2 separate regions of the Homo sapiens genome follow, and region 1 is linked to region 2. The links come from fine-mapping of genetic effects on gene expression. A gene starts in region 2. The other region holds a variant in brackets. All regions are shown on one strand. Distances are between the middles of the regions. Region 1 has its middle 74 kb from the start of LINC02370. Region 2 holds the start of LINC02370 (long intergenic non-protein coding RNA 2370).

The links. PIP is the estimated chance that this variant, and not a neighbour inherited with it, causes the effect.
Region 1: its variant is the best candidate, but not a certain one, in a credible set for the expression of LINC02370 in tibial nerve (GTEx, PIP 0.71).

Annotation. Positions count from the first base shown.
Region 1 is chr12:131,419,097-131,424,473 of GRCh38, forward strand. No RefSeq gene overlaps it. Among named protein-coding and RNA genes, the nearest start is that of LINC02370, 74 kb to the left of the region's middle. The variant G/A (reference allele first, on the strand shown) is at 3,286.
Region 2 is chr12:131,345,128-131,350,504 of GRCh38, forward strand. It overlaps LINC02370 (long intergenic non-protein coding RNA 2370), which reads left to right and starts at 2,343. Exons shown (of 5, transcript NR_103736.1): 1 at 2,343-2,534; 2 at 4,201-4,417. RefSeq lists a silencer at 637-861 and enhancers at 1,403-2,040, 3,233-3,777.

The sequences.
Region 1 (5,377 bases), 74 kb after region 2:
GGGGCCCAGGCAGCTCCACCTGCTCTTTCTCTCCAGCCCCTGACACCCCACTCTGCTGCTCTTCCTTAGGGGGCAAAGAGTGGCTCATAACAGTGGGTATTTATTCTCTCACAGCTCTGAAGGTCAGAAGTGCAAAACCAAGGATTGTGCAGGGATGGTTCTTTCCAGGGGCTCTGAGGCACCCTCCATCTCACGTCTCTCTACAGCGTCTGGTGGCTGCTGGAAACCTTTGGCGTTCCTTGGCTTGTACATGCATCATTTCAATGTCAGCCTACGTCTTCACATGGCTTTCTTGTGTCTTCAGGTTTCAAATATTCCTGTGATTTTCTCTTGTAAGGACACTAGTCACTGAATTTACACCCTTAATCCAGGATGATCTCTTCTTGAGATCCTTAAATTACATCTACAAAGACCCTGTTTCCAAATAAGACTACGTTCACAGCTTCCAGTATTAGGACATAGACATATCTTTTTGGGGACCACGATTCAACCCACTACACCTTCCATCCAGACTTCTAGCCAGGAGTTAATGAGAACTTAGATTAGGCCACATGTATGGATCAACAGTGCAGAAATGTCTCCCCATCAGAGTGATCTAAAATTCTGACAATCACAAAATTTGTCCTGAAACTCCAGGCTCAAATTAAATTGTTAATGAGACATTTATTCATTTTCATTTGAGGTTTTTTTTTTTTTTTTTTTTTTTTTTAGACAGAGTCTCGCTCTGTCACCAGGCTGGAGTGCAGTGGTGCAATCTTGGCTCACTGCAACTTCTGCCTCCTTGGTTTAAGCAATTCTCCTGCCTCAGCCTCCCGAGTAGCTGGGATTACAGGTGCCCGCCACTATGCCCAGCTGATTTTTGTATTTTTAGTAGAGATGGGGTTTCACCATGTTGGCCAGGATGGTCTCGATCTCTTGACCTTGTGATCTGCCTGCCTCAGCCTCCCAAAGTGCTGGGATTACAGGTCTTTTTTTTTTTTTTTTTAACAATCCCAACTGAAAATCCCACATCAGATAAAATAAGACACATGAAGATATCCAGCTGCTATCGATAGCTGTGACTTACATAAACCCAAAGTCAATAAACCCCTTTCAGTACTGAAGGTGTTAAGCATGTAGTTTAATTATCTCCAGGGTTAAGTCTTGGGATAGATGAGGGACAACTCCTTGGTCAACCCAGAAGTGAACTAACACCACTGCCCTCCACACCAGCCCTCTGCGCTCACCAGTTCACTATTAACATTGAGCTTTTTCTCTGATTATCACGTGCACGTTTAACAGGTGCTTGCTTGGCACAGCATGGGTGCTCAGTGAATGGTTCTTGGATGAGCGAGTTTATCCCGTCCAGGGGCTCTGCTCAAGCCTCAGGCAGCCAGATTCCCCATCCAGGCCCCATGGCTCACTGGCGCAGCGCTAACATGACCCCAGTATCCAGGTGCTCTTGGGGTGGCTGACCAAAGCAGTCAGGACTTTTGGGGTGACAAGCAATGGAAACCGAAGGGGAGGGTGGAACACCTGGCTGGGAAAGGACAGCTCGGGGTCCACAAGCAGGAGCGGCTCACGGAGCCTGTTCGGGGTCTCCCTGGAGTGCATGGGCCCCACTGACTCACTCTGCCCACGCGGGTCTCACTTAGGACCCGAGTGAGGGGGGCTGCTTGGGTTAAGAGGGGCATTTTCACCTGGATTGAACAGTGTCTGCGAGGTCTCTTCCCAGCAGGAAATGGGATGTTGTGGTTGAAGGAGGGAAATGGACATGAGTGACTGTCATGCAGCAGTTGTCCACTCACTGACGGTTCAGATCAATAGATTTGTGCAAAGTTAATTACAACAAGACATGGCATGAATTCACAGGACATAAAGGCCAAAGCTTAATCACGGGTGGCACACGTGTTGTGTCCCTGAGGGCTACAGGACATTTCCTCCAGGGTAAGGGTGACCAGGGACCTGGTGGCAGCTGCTAAGTAAAGGAGGACGTATCCCCGCAGTGTGCAGACAAACCCTGCCCTTGGCCCTCCACGGTGGGCTGGAGTAACCTTTCCTGCCTTCGTTCTTTTTATTCAGATTAATTATCCTCCATGGAGCAGGAAATCCCACCGCCTTTCAACAGCCAGGAACAGCAGCTGCTAAACAGAATTCACTGCAGGACAGTCTGCTTCCCTCCCAGGCATTTGCACGGGGCCTTCCCAGTCAGAAGGCTGGGCAGGAGCTTGTGCAGAGAGAGCTGGAATTCTGGGAAAACACGTTCCATCACCATGGCTGATTCGGAGTAAAAGACACATTAACTAAGAAGCTCAGTCTGCAACCCCGTGTGCAAGAAAGTGACTTTGAAATCGTCTTTCTATAATGGAAATGCACTTCCGTTTCTTTCTCCCATCTGCGTCCTTGGTGGAGAGGTCATCCCAGCCAGGTCAGGGTCTCCTGGAAAAGGTCAGTCTTTTCCCTGGTGTTCTAAGTTCTGCAAGGGTAAAGTGAGCATTTTTAAAATACATATGTTTGGCAAATTTGCAGACATATGAATGTGAGCTGGATCAGAAATCCCACCTCCTCCCCTTGCACCCAGGTGTGTGTGGAGCTGGCGGCAGCTGCAGCGAGGGCTGATTCCTCACCGGCTGGCTCTGTGCATCCTCCCAGCCCTGGTCCCCAGCCCTCCCGAGGACAGTTCTGCACACTCCCTGAGACCCTTTACAGGAGCTCATGTTGACCTAATCAGCCAATGTCATCGTTTGTTCTTAAGGTAAGGGCTTTGACACATGCGTGGGGGCCGTATGATGCCGTGACATTGTCTGGGAGGGCACCTGGCCCAGGCATGGCTGTTCTTGTGGCCTCACTGGGACATCCTCACTCCTATGAGTCCCTCAGAGGAGTCTGGCCTGCTCAGGTCTCTGTGGCTTTCTCCTCTTCCCCTTACCCTCCTCTCCCACGTCCTCCTCCTTCTCCCTCCTCCTTTTTCTCCTGCCTGTCCTCCCCCGCTTCTCCTTCTCCTCCTCCTCTCTATCTCCCTCCTCCCTCCTCCTCCACCTGTCCCCTCTGAGCCACCTGCAGAGTGGTCTGTGGGTGCAGCATGTTCATGGTGCCCTTGCATGCATCCCTCATGGGCAGAGGACAGGGAGAAGGGGGAGTGTGCTGATGGTGGGCAGTAGGGGGCTCAGGCTGTGCTGCCACTGAGCCTCCTGGGGTCTCCCCTCCCTGCTGGCTCAGGAGATTTGAGGAAAACCCCTGTGGCAGGCTGACATAGGGACAGTGAATCGGGGTCCCTCTGAGTGGGGCCTGGAGATACGAGCGGCA[G/A]CTCCCCATGCCCGCTGCTGGGCCATTCAAGAGCAGAGTCTCCAAGGCTGGTGATTCCCCTCCAGAAAAGGCCAGCAATGCCCACGCAGCAGGATAATACTGTGAAGATTTGACTGATGTATGTTTGCCTTGGGTTGTCTCTTTTATTCCCTGACCCTTCCCCACTAGGGTCCTCACTGTTGAGGCTTTAGCTCCCAAGAGGAAGCCCTTCAGCCAAAATAGAGAACAAAGCAATAAATTACTGCTCTTAGAATGCGTGTGTTTCAAGTACATGCTGCAATGCAGAGACTCTTGGAAAATGTTTTCTAAGCCAGTTTTTTTTTCCTAGTCCTAAAATAGGTAGAAATTATTTCTGGGTGGGGGAAGAGAAAAGAATCAGAGAAGAAATAGAGACCCCGGGGAGGGTCTGCGAGAAGGGGCCCTGCACCAAACGCCATCTCTCTCTTAGTCCTAAAATGGAAAATGACGCATGACCCCGAGACATCTGGTGACTGAAAGCAAAGAGGACTTGGGTTCATTTCCTACCTGGGAATCTGTAAGCAGTGACGTCACAGTGGGCCCCACACTGCCAGATGAGGGTACACAGAGAAAATGTGGCTGGTGAGGCTTCAGGGCACAGAGACTCGGGAGAGACTGGGATCTTATCTCCCAGTACGTGAGCGAGGGAGTGATGCACCCTGGGCCCCAGAGGACCAGGTCAGGCAGTGGAGGGAGGGATGTGGCAGCATGGCTGCTCTGGGCTAGAGGAGGTGACACCAGGCACGCTGAGTACTGCACAGCCAGATCCTGAATGGGACATGCACGAACAGCAGGTGTTGGCATGAGAGGGGATGGCTGAGGATCTCACCCTGGCCCCATGAGAACCAGCAACATACAGGCAACAGAGCAGGGAAGGGAGAAAATCCTCAATGGTCTAAAAAGACACTACCACCCCAAATTGACGCCGTTCCCCTGGAACTGAGTCTACTCTTTTCTGCCATTAGGCAATGTGTGGGCTGTTGAGAAAGACTATACTCAGTTATAAAGGAACCAGGCGATTCTGCACACATGAGTTGATGGCTTGGGAATAGATGCCCACTGCATTTACAAGAGTGCTTTGGGAGAGAAGGTTAAATTCAGTGTTAACAAATGTCAAATTTCTTTTAAGACCAAAGAGAAACAAAAAGATTTGTTTTATTAACCAGGAAGTAAGATTGACCCAGGGCCAACAAAACTGATGTGAGTCTGATACCACTCTGGATTTGGGGTGGTAGGGGTTAGGGTGGACACTCAGGGTGAGCAGACTTCAGGGTGGGCACAAGGACTGCTCAACCAAGTTCTGGGTGCCGCTGGGCTGAGGAGGAGATAGCAGAAGCAGTAGTCAAATGTAGGAAAGAGGAAGAGAGACAGGGCTGGACTGGGAGAAGAAGCACTGCATTGAGGAAGCCACAGGTGAAGATCTGATTCTTTCCTCAGCCTCATGACTTGGGAGCACTACCTCCTTACAGTCCAGGGAGGAGGGAGGAAGGCTTCATAGCAAAGGAGGAAAACCCAGCAGAGTTTCTTCATTAGACTCATAAAAAGTTGTTTAATTCATTCATTTGTGCACTGGTTTCTTCATTGCTTCAGGAGAGTTTTGTCTACTACATCACTGACACTGTCCATGCACTGTTGACCAAGGGAGATCAAAGTTAATAAGGGCCCTTCTCTCTTAGAAAACAGATGTAAAATGACAAAATGAGTAGCAAAGCAATATAATTTTAGATAGTGATAATTGCTACAAAAGAAACCAAAAAGTGAAAAGATAGATAAAAACTTGGGGAGGCCACTTCCATAGGGTCAAAGAAGTTCTCACTGAAGCAAGTTTTGTGCTGAGAACTCAAAGCTGAGAAGGAATCAGACATGTGGATATATCAGGAAGAACATTCTAGACAGAGGGAAGAGCAAATGCTACATTCCATGCAGAGGGAAAAGATTTACTTATCCTTCAACTCTCAAAAAAAGGCCTATTAAAGGAAGAGGCATGCCAATTTCCAGGTATAAATACTATTTATCTCAATTTGTATTGTCCAGTGTTTATCTTAATTTTGAATTATATATGCTGATGTCCAAT
Region 2 (5,377 bases):
GGGAGTGAGTGCCGGGACCCTCTGTCCTAACCCTCTGCCTCCCTGGGTGTTAACCCACCTGGGCAAAAGTGCGTGGTTCAATGCCAAGGCCAGGGCCATGGGCTCGGCGTTTCCCTGCAGAGTCCCTGGGCTTCTCGGCCCATCACAGGCTTGAGGATCAGCACCTGCAGCCCGTGGTGGTTGTTTTCTCATCTGTAAATGCGGATTTGGGCTTTAGAGCTGACTCTTTGTCACCGGGAGCACAGCCTGTCTTCTCTGTTCCTTTCCTTTGTGACTCAGAGGCCCTCTGCGCCTTGGTGGGAGGAAGAGGAATCATCCTTGTTGCTGACCCCCTGTGACGGTGCTGGCTGGACGGGGTGTGCATCGTGCCAGGAGCTGGTCCCTCATTCATCCTCACAGCAGCCCTCCCGGGCTCGCCCGCCGTGACTTTCACTCCCATTTCACAGACGAGGACCCTGAGGTCCAGGGAGGCTGAGTGGGCTGCCCTCCCCAGCTGGAGCCTGGAGGGGATTTGAACTCGCGCCTCGGGGCAGAGCCTGTTGCTGGCTGGGCTGGGCTGAGCTGACTCCCCAGGGCCATCAGCTCCACTGCATCCTGACCACCTGGGAACTGTGGCCAGCACTTTTCAGGCTCGAAGGCATGGCTGCTTACAGCGTGCCCGAGGATGGGTGTCATCGTCCTCACCCTCTGCACTCACTGTACCCGTCTTTGCAGGGTGAGGGCCCTGCCGGGTCCTACTCTGGGCACTGAGGTACAGAGGGAAGCCCTCCTGCCCTGCCCCAGGAGGGTGCTGGTCTCCACCAGGACACAGATGGAGGTGGATGAGGCCACAGCCCAGAGAAGAAGGGCAAGGTGGCAGGGGGTGCTGGTAGAGGAGTAGGACTAAGGGTGGTAGTGACACTGGTGAACCCCAGCTGAGGAGGGGCATGGACTCTTCTGCACATCAATGGGGAGCCACAGTATGTTGTAGAGGAAGCTCATTCTGCCCTGGGTCCCCAGGGAGCTAAGGTCTCAGCCACATTCACCCTCACAGCTGGGCCCTCCAGCCCCTCCCGCCCTGGGAAGTGTGGCCTCTGTTTTTGGTGAGGTCACAGCTGCAGGGAGGGCCAGGGCGCTGGATGCCTCAGGCTGCAAATGGCTTCACCCAATGCCTCCGGCTGTGGGGCAGAGGCCGGAGCTAGAAATAGACCCGCAGTGACCCCCACCCCAGCCACACAGTGCAGGCCTCCTGACCACAGGTCCTGGGCCACCCCTTCCTGCTCACATGGGAGGGAACCCTGAGCTTGAGGGAGGCTGTTCCCCAAACAAGGCCACCTTGTGTAGCTCTCTGAGGGCCTTTTATAATCTCCTTCCCTCCACCAGGACAGCCCAGCTGCAGCCCGTCCTCACCAGCGACCCCTGGGCCCTTCGCCTCAGGGCCAGGCAAGCGGGGAGCAGACAGCAGTGTGTGAGGAGGGAAAAGAGCCGGACTACGGGGACCCCCAGCCGCCCGCCAGCCCCTCCCCTGCAGCCTCTCTTCCCAGATGTCAAGGTCCCTGAGCTGCCCCGTGCAGGGAGCAGGGTCAGGTGAGGTCCAGCGGAGCCCAGAAGCTGTTGCAGGAGCAGGACGGAGGAAGCCCTGGGGGAAAGGCCCGGCTCCTGTCCTCCCTGTGTCCCCTCCCCTTCCTCTAAATGCCTGCCCTGCCTCCTGCAATGGTGGGATGGCCTGGAGGTGCAGAACGAGGCTGGCCCTGCCTTCTCTGGGGAGCTCAGCCACTGGAGGTGCCTGAGTCTGGGTTCATCATTGCAAAGACAGAACCTGTTCTGCCGTCTTTAGGGAAGGGAAAAGGGCCTGGGGGAGATGGGACAGTCCCCCTCATATCATTGGTGGCAGTGCGTGTAGGAGCAGTCTGTTTGGAGGACATTTTGTGTAATATCTATTCAAATCAGGTGTGCCCAGCCTAACCTGGGGGCCAGCCCTTTACCATCCTCACACGCTCACATCGGCAGCCAATACCTGGACCGTCTAACCAATCAACTGGTTCCATTGACTCACTGACTGGCCTAACCCAACGGCATGAGCAGGGCTGGGGCCACAGGGGAGGAGCAAATCTAGACAGCAGTACAATTCGCCATGTCTCCAGAAATTCTTTAGGACATTCTATTGTGCCTGTCCAGGCTCTGATGCTGGCCTCAGCAGCCCCCATCTCCTCCTCACATGAGGTCCTGGGCTGTTCCACTGAGCCCTCCACTTTCTGAAATGAATGGGGACACGTTCTATTGTTATTCGAATTGTGGGAAATTCGACAGTTATTCGAGTTGTGGAAAAGCAGGCTCCAGAACGTCTTGGAGATATGACTTAGCAATCTGCAGGTGTCCACGGTGAGTCCTCCCCAGTAGGAGGAGACAGGAGTCTCTCTGGAAGGCGAACGCCACAGCTGCCCAGATGTTCTCCTGCAGGGGAACCAGACACCATCATGACCCAAAAGGGCTGCACTTCTCGGGGTTTGCAGAATGTGGCAGAGGTGGAAAAACTCGAAAGTCCCTAAACACAGGTAAGCAGACAGCGCAGTGGTGGTGGTGTCTCCCACACTTTGAGTCTGTGTTTGCATGTGTGTGCACACGTGTCTATATGTGCATTTGTATCTGCTTCTTCCATGTGTGCATGCCTCTGTGCATGTGTGTGTGTGTGCATGTACTTCTGTCTCTGTGCATGTGTGTGTGCATGTGTGTGTCTGTGTGAATGTTTGTGTATCTGTGCATGTGCATGGTTGTGGTATACATGCATGCGTATATATGCATGTGTGCACATGTGTGCTTGTGTGTGTCTCTGTGTGTGCATGCATATGTGTGCATGTGTGTGTGTGAATGTGTTTGTGTATCTGTGCATGTGCGTGTTTGTGGTATACATGCATACGTATATACGCATGTGTGCATACGTGTGCTTGTGTGTGTCTCTCTGTGCACGCATGTGTGTGCATGCGTGTGTCTCTCTGTGTGCATGCATGTGTGTGCATGTGCAGATTCATGTTTCTGTGTCTGTGCCATGCACGTCTGTACATATGCACATGTGCATGGGTGCATTCATATGCACACGTGTCTTGTGTACATGCATGTGTGCCTGTGTGTGAGTGTGCGCCTGTTGAGTCAGGTCTGTGAGTCCCCCTGAGGGCCAGGAGGCCGTGGGCAGGGCTGGTCCTGGAGAGCACTTCTTTTCCACGCACTTTGGCTTCCCCCGCTGAGCGCACCCCCCGCACTTGGCTGGCTGCTTTCACCCCAGCCCCGTTCCTCCTGTGCCCAAGAACCTCCTCCTCGTCTCCTCCTCAGCCACGCAGCTGGTGCAGCACAGCAGACCTGCACTGAAATGCATCGGGGAGAAAAAGGGAGGTGAAGTCAAACATCCCATCTGCTCCTGTCCACGTCCTCAGGTTCACTGCCAAGTTCTGACACTGCCGACTCCCCACACTGAAGGCAAATGGCCTCCCCGAATGCAAAACTCATTCCTTGCTTGCCAGCACCCAGAGATTCTTTCTGAAGATGTTTATCTTTTCTCATTCACTCTTCAAAATCCTCCATGTAGAGAAAATGCCTTAGAATTTCCTGAATAAGGAAACAACAGGCAGCATCCTCATCTACATCCCCTCGGGATTGCTGAATGGAATGCAGAGAGGAGAGGAGAGTGGAAAATAGCCCCTGGGTTTTAGGAAATATTAAGCAGTTTTTCAAGAGCCAAGAGCCCTGCAGGAGGCAGAAAAGGATATGATTTTGCAGTTTTGAATACGCTTTTCTCTGGGAGTAGCACTTTTCTACCAGAGGCTGACATTGGAGGGACCACCTGACATCAGATTAGACATTCACAAAAAGGCGCTGCAGGCAAGTGCTTCATAAAAAGACCTTCACCAAAGATGCACCTGACCCCCGGGCTCAGGGAGGCTCTTGTTAAATGGAGGATATTATGCCTGCTCTATTTACTGTGGGGCCTGCTTGGGGCTAATCAGAGGTTGCTTCAAATCTGTGCAGGTAGATGTATTCATGCAATAATACCTCATCTCCACTATATTGTTGTTTTAGCAAAAGATACTTTCATTCATGTTTTCATCTTTTTATTGTGGACAATTTTAAACATGCAGAAATGGAGGGAGAAGGGTATGGAGAACACCCATTTACCATCAGCCAGATGTCACAATTACCGATAACTTCCTGCATTTGCTTCTTCTCTAGATTTTTTGGAATTAATTCGAAGTACATTGCAATCACGATGGCCTTTTACTTCTAAATTCTACACTCTGCACCTCTAAAATATACAAGCATGTCCCAGGACCACCCTCAACTACTTCAGGTCCCTCGGAAAAGGGTAAGGTCAGCCAGGCTGGACACCACGCTGTGGGTGGCCTTAGGTCCTGCAAGCAACTGTGGCCACCAGCGTCGCAGCAGCAAGGTGAGCCTGAGCAGGAGCACACTGTCCCTACCTGTCTCTGTTTCTTCCTGCCCCTTGGGGTGTGGGCACCTTGCCAGCTGGGAAGCTGTAGTCTGTAACAGTGATCATCGTGCTCTTCGCTGCCGTCATTTCCAACATCGTCCGAGAATTTATGAAGTGCCGAGAATCCCTCTTACGGCTTCTCCTATATTCAACTACTGAATCCACATAAACCTGTTTTACAGATGGGCTTATAGAAGTGCAGCGATGCAAATCCAGACCGTTTAGCTTCCAAGTTCATACCCACCATCATCTTCTGCTCAACTGCAGAAGCATCAGGGTGAAGCCGGCCGTGCTGGGCTGGTGGGGCAGGTGGCAGTGGCTACCATGCAGGTCCGTGTGGGACTCCCCAGGGGACTTCATGCTGCATGATTCCCACCTCATGTGTGGACCTTGGTACCAAACTTGTGCTTAGGATTCAATTCCACATGTGAGTTATTCCACGATTCCAGTTCTGTACGTGTTTTCCATGTACGTTCACTAAAAACAGACCGAGAAACTTTATATCCAACTGATGACTCTGCCTAAGACTGTAGCAGGATTGATAAGGAATCAGAGACCGATGGGGTTGAGGAGGATATTTATTATTTAGGTACACCGGCCCAGTAGGACTAACATTCCAATGACTGAGCCCTGAACAAAGAGTTAAGTTACCTTTTAAGCATTTCATGGGGTGGGGTGTTGTGGGGGGGAGATCTGTGCAGGGGGAAGCATATTACAGAAGCGAGAAACAAAGACAGTTATTCAACTGAGACATGTATTACATCATTTCTTACTTTTCAAGGAAAAACATGTTTTGCGACTTGAGTTTATCTGTCTGGTGACCTTGCAGCTGCACAGCTAGGGAAACAGGGTCTTCACAATGCCTGGGAAGGGAGGAGAGATAAGGCTCACTAGCCACAGAAAAACAGGCAGTTAATT